Regions from separate parts of the Homo sapiens genome. Here all the other regions are linked to region 2. The links come from fine-mapping of genetic effects on gene expression. A gene starts in region 2. Each other region holds a variant in brackets. All regions are shown on one strand. Distances are from middle to middle. Region 1 overlaps TESC (tescalcin). Region 2 holds the start of TESC (tescalcin). Region 3 overlaps TESC (tescalcin).

Region 1 (2,755 bases), 30 kb before region 2:
CAGAGTCTCACTGTGTTGCCCAGGCTCGTCCCAAACTCCTGGATTCAAGCAATCCTTCCACCTCGGCCTCCCAAAGTGCTCAGATTACACGTGTGAGCTACTGCACTGGGCCAATCTTGTGGTAACTTCAAAAAATGACAGAGCAGTGGTAAGAACACTGCTGAGGGCCTGGGTGTGGTGGCTCACACCTGTAATCCCAGCACTTTGGGAGGCCGAGGCGGGTGGATCACCTGAGGTCAGGAGTTTAAGACCAGCCTGGCCAACATGGTGAAACCTTGCCTCTACTAAAAATACAAAAATTAGCCAGGTGTGGAGGTGGGTGCCATAATCCCAGCTACCTGGGAGGCTGAGGAAGGACAATTGCTTGAACCTGGGACGGGGAGGTTGCAGTGAGCCAAGATCGCGCCACAGCACTCCAGCCTGGCTGACAGAGCGAGACTCTGTCTCAAAGAGAAAAACAAAAGGAACACTGCTGAAGGAAGAAAAACAGGACCTGGAGTTAGGACATTTTGCTGACGCCCCACTGTCTGGGCTATCAGAACATGGGGCTGCACGTTGGTGGCATTTGACATGGAGCATGGAGTCCCTTTTTTTTCTCTTCCCTGTGTACGTCTGTGGTTGCATTTACCTCCGGAATTACTCCACAGTCAATGGCTCGATGAACCTAAAAATATTTTTTGTAATGTGGCTTTATCTAATCATGCCTCCTAATGGCCTGCACCACTACATCTGAAGTATTCCATAGCGTCTATTTCTGGCATTTATAAGCCTGCCAGCGTGCTATCAGGAAATTAAAAATTGTTGTTTAAAACATTTACCAGTTAAGGGGCCCAAAAAGAGAAAGAAAAAGTGCAAGAAGCTATTTCTGTATTTTCTTCATTATTTAAAATTCTGACCTTTTAACAGGTTTACCTGTGGAGGTCGCCTCTGCTAGATGGAAAATTTCTGAGTGTACAGGGGAAGAGCCCCCCGAATGGTAGGTGGCTAATGAACGTGTTAGAATTAGATAGAAATTCCTTTTTTTTTTTTCTTTTCTATTCAGGCATTTTGCCGAGAGGCCACAGAAATTCAGTGCTTTGTGGTCTGGATGAATTCAGGTCTTGAGGATCCTGAAGCATATAC[G/A]ATTTGGGGGTTCCCTCTTTTAAAAAGGGAACATAACAAAATGAAATTTTTTTTGAGACAGAATCTCGCTCTGTCACCCAGGCTGCAGTGCAGTGTCATGATCTCAGCTCATTGCGACCTCTCCCTCCCATGTTCAAGCGATTCTCCTGCTCAGCCTCCCGAGTAGCTGGGATTACAAGCACACACCACCACGCCCAACTGATTTTTGTATTTTCAGTAGAGACGAGGTTTCACCATGTTGGCCAGGCTGGTCTGGAACTCCTGACCTCAAGTGATCCGCCAGCCTCAGCCTCTCAAAGTGCTGGGATTACAGAGTGAGCCACTGCGCCCGGCCAACAATATGAATGTCTAAAAATCAGGTACCGGGCTGTGTAAAGAACCCACGCAAAAGTAAGGCCTTGAAGTGGGGCTTTCAATGCCGCAAGACGAACCCTCCCCTAGATGTCCTCAGATGACTTCTGGAAAGAGATGGGACCAGGCCCAACACAGATAAGAAACGGTGGCTTAAAAACAAAATCAATTTTGGTCCATCAATTGCCTCATGAGAGTTTGTAAAGCTATATTCAATTTGTCAAGCCGCACATTTAGAAATCCAGTTCTTCTTTAAACTTCTAAGTGCAACTTACAAATCTTATTCATCTGTATCTAAAGCCTGTGGTTCTGAATGATCATTTTTAAGGGGACTTTTGCATTCAAGGTCTTCACGAGCCTCCTGTGGGATCCTCATAAGCACGTGGGTCCTTCGCTGTCTGAGCGGGAAGGGGCAAAGGAGGTGGCACCCTCTCCCCCATCGCAGATTGTAGTGGGGTGCCAGGGGCCTTCACTAGGGAACCCCAATCAACGCCATTTTCATGTGGGGGAATGTCCCCAGAAAGAAAAGGAATTTTGTCCATGCTCTGAAAACCCAGCACAGCCCAGGGCCTGTTGGACAGCTTCCAAGATGTGCCAGGATCTGAGAGGTTGAAGACCGGGCCTGGGGTCACTTAGAAAACCCCTGGCAGAGAGGGGACAGCACTGGGGATCAGTTCCCAAGCCAGGGCTGCTCAGGGGAAGATGGGCAGGAAAAGGCCAGGGGAACCTTGAAAAGCTACCTCATCTCCCTTCTCTAGGCCCTGGAGGGTGGATTAGGATTAGGCAAAGCAGTTCTGGGAGGCTGGAAGGAGGCCCTTCCTGTAGGCCTGTTTGCATAAGAAGCTGTGGTCAGTCACCTCCTTCCTGCAGGCTGGGCTGGGGCTGTCACTATGTGCAGCTGACACGAACCTCGAAGCCGACTCTGAAGCTCTGAGACCAAGGCAGTGGTGACGGGAATTATAAACGCACCTCCCCCACCCCCAGTAGCAGGGCAGGAAGACTGAGGTCCTTAGAGATCACTTGCAAATCAAGACAATGCCCCTGGCTTCCTACAGCAGGATCTTGGCGCTGGGTTCAAACCCCAGCTCCTCCACTTATGAGCTGTGTGACCCAGGGCCAGGTACATGGCCTCTCTCTCTAGCCTTACTTTCCCATCTGTAAAATGGGGAGAGTGAGCGTCCCTACCTCTACTTCCTATGGGGTTCTGTAGGACTGAAGTCAGCCTGGGCGACATGGTAAGACCTCATCTCTACAAAAATACAAAAAATGAGCCAGGTGTGGT
Region 2 (2,755 bases):
TCCTGAGCGTCTACCAGGTACTAGGAGAACTCTTACAACAGAGAAGGAAAGCTGAGAATCAGAGAGGTAAAGTGACTAGCCCAAGGTCACACAGCCAGGAAGTGCAGCTGGCAGGGTTCACAGCCGGTCTGTCGCTCGCCAAAGCCGGTTTGCCCACACACCTGGCCCCCGCGGTCTCCAGTCCACACCCTGGTCCACAGCCAGAGGCAGAACTGGCCATGCCGAGTTCAGGACCCAGGGCCAAGTCCCCAGCCCGGCTGAACTCGGGCAGAGAAGCGCTTTCTCCGCCATTTCCCTGCGGGCAGCTCGGCCAGGCCTCCCAGGGCTCCCCGCCTCCGGGCCGATGCGGGGCGCGCAGCCTTTGCTGGTCCCGGGAGACTCAGCGAACTCAGGGGAGGACGCTGGGCTCCGGGCAAAGTGCTCTGCGGCCGCTGCCTCGCTAAGTCTCCCAGCCACCCGCGGGGATGAGGCTGCCTGAACCCATTTTACAGATGCGAGGACGAAAGCAGGCGCCGGGCGCCGGCTCTCCCGACTAAGGTCACCCGGCCGGGGAGCGTCGGAGACCTGTTCCCACCCAGGTCCGCCGACTTCAAAACTTTCCGCTCTCGCGCTCACGAATGCAAACGACTCTCAGGTGTGGGGCGCGCGCGCCAGCGGGGGTGCCTGAGGGACTTGCCCGCCCGGCCTGAGGCACCTGCCCTGCGCTTGGGAAGCCTGGGCCCCGCTCCCTCCCCGGTCCGCAGTCCCCCGGCCAGGGAGTTCCCGGGCCAGTCCGAAGCTGAGCGGCTGCGGCACTGAGCATCGCCGCGGAGCTCCTCGCCGCAGCCCGCGAGGTGGCCAGCGGGGACCCATTTGAAAGAGGAGGAGACTGAGGCGCAGAGAGGGCCCGCCACTGGCCCAAGGTCACACAGCGCGGCGGCGGGCCGGGGTCCCCAACAGTGGCCGTTCGGAGGTCCCGCCCCGGTCCCCGCGCCGCCCCCCGCGGGTACTCACAGCCGGTCTTGCCCTCGAGCTCCCGCACCTCCTCAGACGCGGAGTGGGCAGCGCCCATGGTGCCCGCGGCGGGGGCCCCGGGGCGCGCGTCCCTCTCAGGCCCCGCACTGGCTTCGGCTGCGCAGCGGCGGGACTGGCCTCGGGTCCGGCCTCGGGTCGGGACGCCGGCGAAGGCTCGGAGCCGCGGGTTCCGCGTGGGGCCGGAGCGGGGCCTCATATAACGGCGGAGGGCGGCGCGCCGCGGTCCTAGCGCACGCCGGTTTCGCGCACTGCGCGGCTAGGGGAGCGCCCCGCCCCGCCCCGGCCCGGAAACCGCCGGGAAGGGGACCCCGGAGCCCACCGCTCTGGAGTCCCCGTTCGTGCAGCAGTGCTCACGTACCTCGTCCCTTCCGCACACCTGCTGGATCTGGAAGGAAGCAGGTGTGAGCAAATTTGGGGGCGTGGGTAGGAGGGGTGGGACCCCTGGGAGGTGCTATGCCCACTCCCAACCCATCCCACCTTACATCCTCCAGATCTTAGGAGGGAAACTCCACTGAGATAGTCAAGGAAGTCAGCGAGCATGAAATAGCTCTATGGAGAACAACAGTAATAATAATCCTATTTGAAAATGCACCATGCGCTTTGGTTTTTTCCAGGAAAGCCCCAGCACCTTCTGAGGTGAACACACCCACGTGGCGGCCCGTGTGGGCCCTGCACAGCCCGGTGGCTGAGAGGCACCTCAAACTGCAGGAGCGGGCTGGGCGCATGGCTCACGCCTGTAATCCCAGCACTTTGGGAGGCCAAGGCGGGCGGATCACTTGAGCTCATGAGTTCGAGACCAGCCTGGCCAACATGGTGAAACCCCGTCTCTACTAAAAACACAAAAATTAGCCAGGCGCGGTGGCACATGCCTGTAATCCCAGCTACTCCGGAGGCTGAGGCAGGAGAATCACTTGCACCTGGGAGGCAGAGGTTGCAGTGAGCTGAGATCTTGCCACTGCACTCCAGCCTGGGCGACAGAGCAAGACTCTGTCTCAAAAAACAAACAAACAAAAAAACAACTGCAGAAGTGGGCCCAGGAGGCTGCATTTGGGACAAACTGCTGGAGAGAAGGCAATGCCGGTGGTCCCCATGCCCATTAGGGAAGTTCTGGGTTAAGATGGCTTGAGGGGTTGGCTCTCCATCCAGTTGGGGTGACTGGGGCCGATGCTGTTGCCTGTGTAATGTGATTCCTCCTCCTTAAAATAAGGATAAGTTAATGAGATGTCCACCAGAGGGCCTGGCGTGGACACAGCACATGGCCACAGAGGCTGGTGGGCGCTATGGAATCTTGTCCCCTGGAGAGGCACACAGCCAGGGCAGAACATCAAGGTCAAGGCTCTCCTGAAGGCTCTGCAGTGCTTAGTGACACCACCATCAATGACCGTCAGGTATCAGGTCTGTTCTGAACGTTAGTCTCGATGATAAATGTTGGGGAGGAAGGGGGACAGGGTAGGGGGCAGGAGTTTTTCGGTGCCCACAGAGGGGACTCGGGTGGACCTACCTCCATCAGTTTCACAGGCTGCTGGGAAGGGGGCTGCTGAGAACTGCTGTTCATTCCTGCAGACTACAGGCTCAAGCCAAGGGTCACAGCCCTTTCCAGGGGCAGGAGGTGACTTTCAGAGCCCGAGGTAGAGGGTGGGAGTTGGTCCTAAAACCTCCTAGAGCATCAGAATCAGCCCCTTCCTGGTTGCAAATCCAGCTTTTGGCCAGGTGCAGTGGCTCATGTCTGTAATCTCACCAC
Region 3 (2,755 bases), 38 kb before region 2:
CCCTGAATGAGTCAGGGTTACCAGGGAGATGATCTACGAAATCACGATCGGATGACAATGACAGCTACAGCTCACAACCGTGCAAGCAACTTGGCCGGAGCCACCTCGCTTCCCAGAGACCCCACAAGGGCTCCTATTATCCACGACGCTTCAGGCTCAGCACAGACAGGTTCGGCAACCTGCCCCAGCTCACCCAGTGGGGGCATGGAAGAGTCAGCTTGGAAGCCAGGTAGCGTACAGCCATGCTCTTACCAGATACCCTGCTGCCCGACTCTCCCTGGCCATCCGAATAGAATCCATTTTCCAAGGCCCAGATCCCTGAGAAAGGGACCACGTGGAGCTCCAGAGGGAATCTGGGAGAACAGAGAAGCCGCTGGCTGCTATGCTGCTAGCCAAACCCTCTCTGGCTTTCACTGGCTGTTGCTAATCCTTCCTGAGTCTGTTTTCTCGTCTGTGAGGAGGGCACACTGATACTGACAGAGGGTGAAGGGCACAGCCTCTGGAATCACACTTGGGCTCTACCCTACTCTGCTACCTGGGTCAAACGGCGTTGCCTCACCCAGCCTCTGTCTACTCCTTTGCAAACAGGAACCTCACAGGGTTGCCGTACAGTTTAGAGGAGATAAAGTCTGCAACATGCTCAGCACGGTGTCTGGTGAACTGGGAGTGCACCACAGATGGCACCTTGCAGGATGGGGACCCTGTGATGTCCACAGCACCCCGTCCTCAGTGCCTTGCACTGCTGGGCTTGGCAAGGTGGTCAATAAATGGTTTGCTGAGCGAATAATGAAGCGAATAATGAAGATGGCTGCACGCAGGGCTTCCCTCTTTGTCTGGCCCATCCTGAGGCACTGCCCTTCCCCAGGTGCCTTCCCCAGGGCCCAGGTGTCCAGACCCTGGAAGGAGAGCAGACCCCAATGTCCCAGGAGAGAGGGAGGAGAGGTGGGGGAGAAACCACCTAGAAGAGCCTGACCCATGTGCCTGGAGAAGAAATTAACTCAACACAAGAGGCCTGTCCCCAACCAGCAGCAACAAGACATGCTTGACCTGCTAGGAATTGAGCTGGGGACACAGTGTCCCCAGGTGCTGGCTTCACAACCCCCAGTGGGTGTGTAAATGGCTCTGAAGCCCGCTGCCTCTGCTCTCTCTCTCTCTCTCCATAGGCACCTGCTACATCCACACCTGACTCTCACCTCCCCCTCACCACTGGTGCCTGACTCTTGGAGCCTCAGTTTCCTCATCTGTGAGATGGGTGCAGACCTAATCCTTCC[C/T]ATATCAAAGGGGATGGTTCAGGGTCAAACACAAGGTGGGGAGAGGGGTGCTGGCCCAGGCTCTGCCCCTTACCAGGCACATGGTCTTGAGTAATCACAGCATGTCTTCAAGCCGTGATTTCTCATATGTAAAATGGGGATCATAGGAATATCCAGGTAACATGATGGGGCTAATGAGATGATCAAATGAGATAAATCCACATAAGATGCTGAGTAGGCTGCCTGACACAGGATGAGCTCTTAATTTTAAAATAATAACAGTAATAACGGCAGCAGCAGTAACAGTAATCGCTGCAGCAGTATTAATAGTAGTAATAATAATAATGTAACAGCAGCTAACCTACGTACCCTCAAAATGGAAGGAACTATTCTAAGAGCTTTACATTATTACATAGGGTTCACAACAACCCTATAAAGTAGGTACTTATGCCCATTTTATTTTCTTAATTTTTTTTTTTTGAGACGGAGTCTCACTCTGCCGCCCAGGCTGGAGCACAGTGGCGTGATCTCTGCTCACTGCAACCTCCACCTCCTGGGTTCAAGTGATTCTTGTACCTCAGCCACCCGAGTAGCTGGGATTACAGGTACCTGCCACCATGCCCAGCTAATTTTTGTATTTTTAGTAGAGATGGGGTTTCACCATGTTGGCCAGGCTGGTCTCGAACTCGTGACCTCAGGTGATCTGCCCTCCTCAGCCTCCCAAAGTGCTGGGATTACAGGTGTGAGCCACTGCACCCGGCCTGTGCCCATTTTAAAGATGAGGAAACTGAGGCAGAGAGATGAAGCCACTTCTCATTGTTAAGAATGATACTGGCGGACCCAGGCAGTGGCATGGTGGTTGGTGCCTGGCCTTCAGGGACTTTCCCTAAAACCTGCCAATGTCCCTTTTCAACAAGGAGAGCACCGGCCTTGAGTCCAGCGCTTAGGACAGGCTAACCTTTTCATTTCATCAGTTTCATGCTCCATCAATACTCGTGTCAGTTTTGTTTTCCTTCCTCCCTAGGTCCCCGCCGGGCTGGATGAACCGGCTTTTCTAAAGGTGTCGCAGCCCAGGCTGCAGCCATGGGAACAGGCTCTGCCTCACCTCAGAGCCCAGGGCTGACGGCAGGTCACTGCCCTCAGCCAGAGCTGATTCTCATGGCCAGTGGTGTTGCCCCAGTGACCATCAGGGGTAGCGGGGATTGCCCAGGAGGGCTCCAGGGCCACACACCTTCCAGGCCTCCTGCGGGAGAGCTTGAGCCCTCGGGGCTTCAGAATGTCCCCCTGGAGTCATGAAGGGCTCGCGTGACATCAAGCTGTGCTAAGCACTGCAACACTTAATCACCCCCACATAATCATGAGTGGCAACAATGATGATCCTATTTTACAGACCAGAACACAAGGCCCAGAGAGGCAAAGAGACTAAGCCCCAGTCACACAGCTAGAGTTGGCGCGGGACTCCAGCTCTGCCTCCAGGCTGGCTCGAACCATCTTGCGCTTCCTCA

The links. PIP is the estimated chance that this variant, and not a neighbour inherited with it, causes the effect.
Region 1: its variant is fine-mapped to the expression of TESC in thyroid (GTEx, PIP 0.99).
Region 3: its variant is fine-mapped to the expression of TESC in whole blood (INTERVAL, PIP above 0.99).

Annotation. Positions count from the first base shown.
Region 1 is chr12:117,068,082-117,070,836 of GRCh38, forward strand. All of the region lies in intron 2 of TESC (tescalcin), which reads right to left. Among named protein-coding and RNA genes, the nearest start is that of TESC, 30 kb to the right of the region's middle. The variant G/A (reference allele first, on the strand shown) is at 1,123.
Region 2 is chr12:117,098,232-117,100,986 of GRCh38, forward strand. TESC (tescalcin) reads right to left here and starts at 1,185. Exons shown (of 8, transcript NM_017899.4): 1 at 994-1,185. The coding sequence starts at 1,051. TESC-AS1 (TESC antisense RNA 1) reads left to right here and starts at 1,236. Exons shown (of 3, transcript NR_120464.1): 1 at 1,236-1,413; 2 at 2,222-2,409. RefSeq lists silencers at 581-680, 751-860, 921-1,440, 1,179-1,317, 2,184-2,401.
Region 3 is chr12:117,060,510-117,063,264 of GRCh38, forward strand. The region is part of intron 2 of TESC (tescalcin); the gene reads right to left. Among named protein-coding and RNA genes, the nearest start is that of TESC, 38 kb to the right of the region's middle. RefSeq lists enhancers at 1,904-2,680, 2,681-2,755. The variant C/T (reference allele first, on the strand shown) is at 1,272.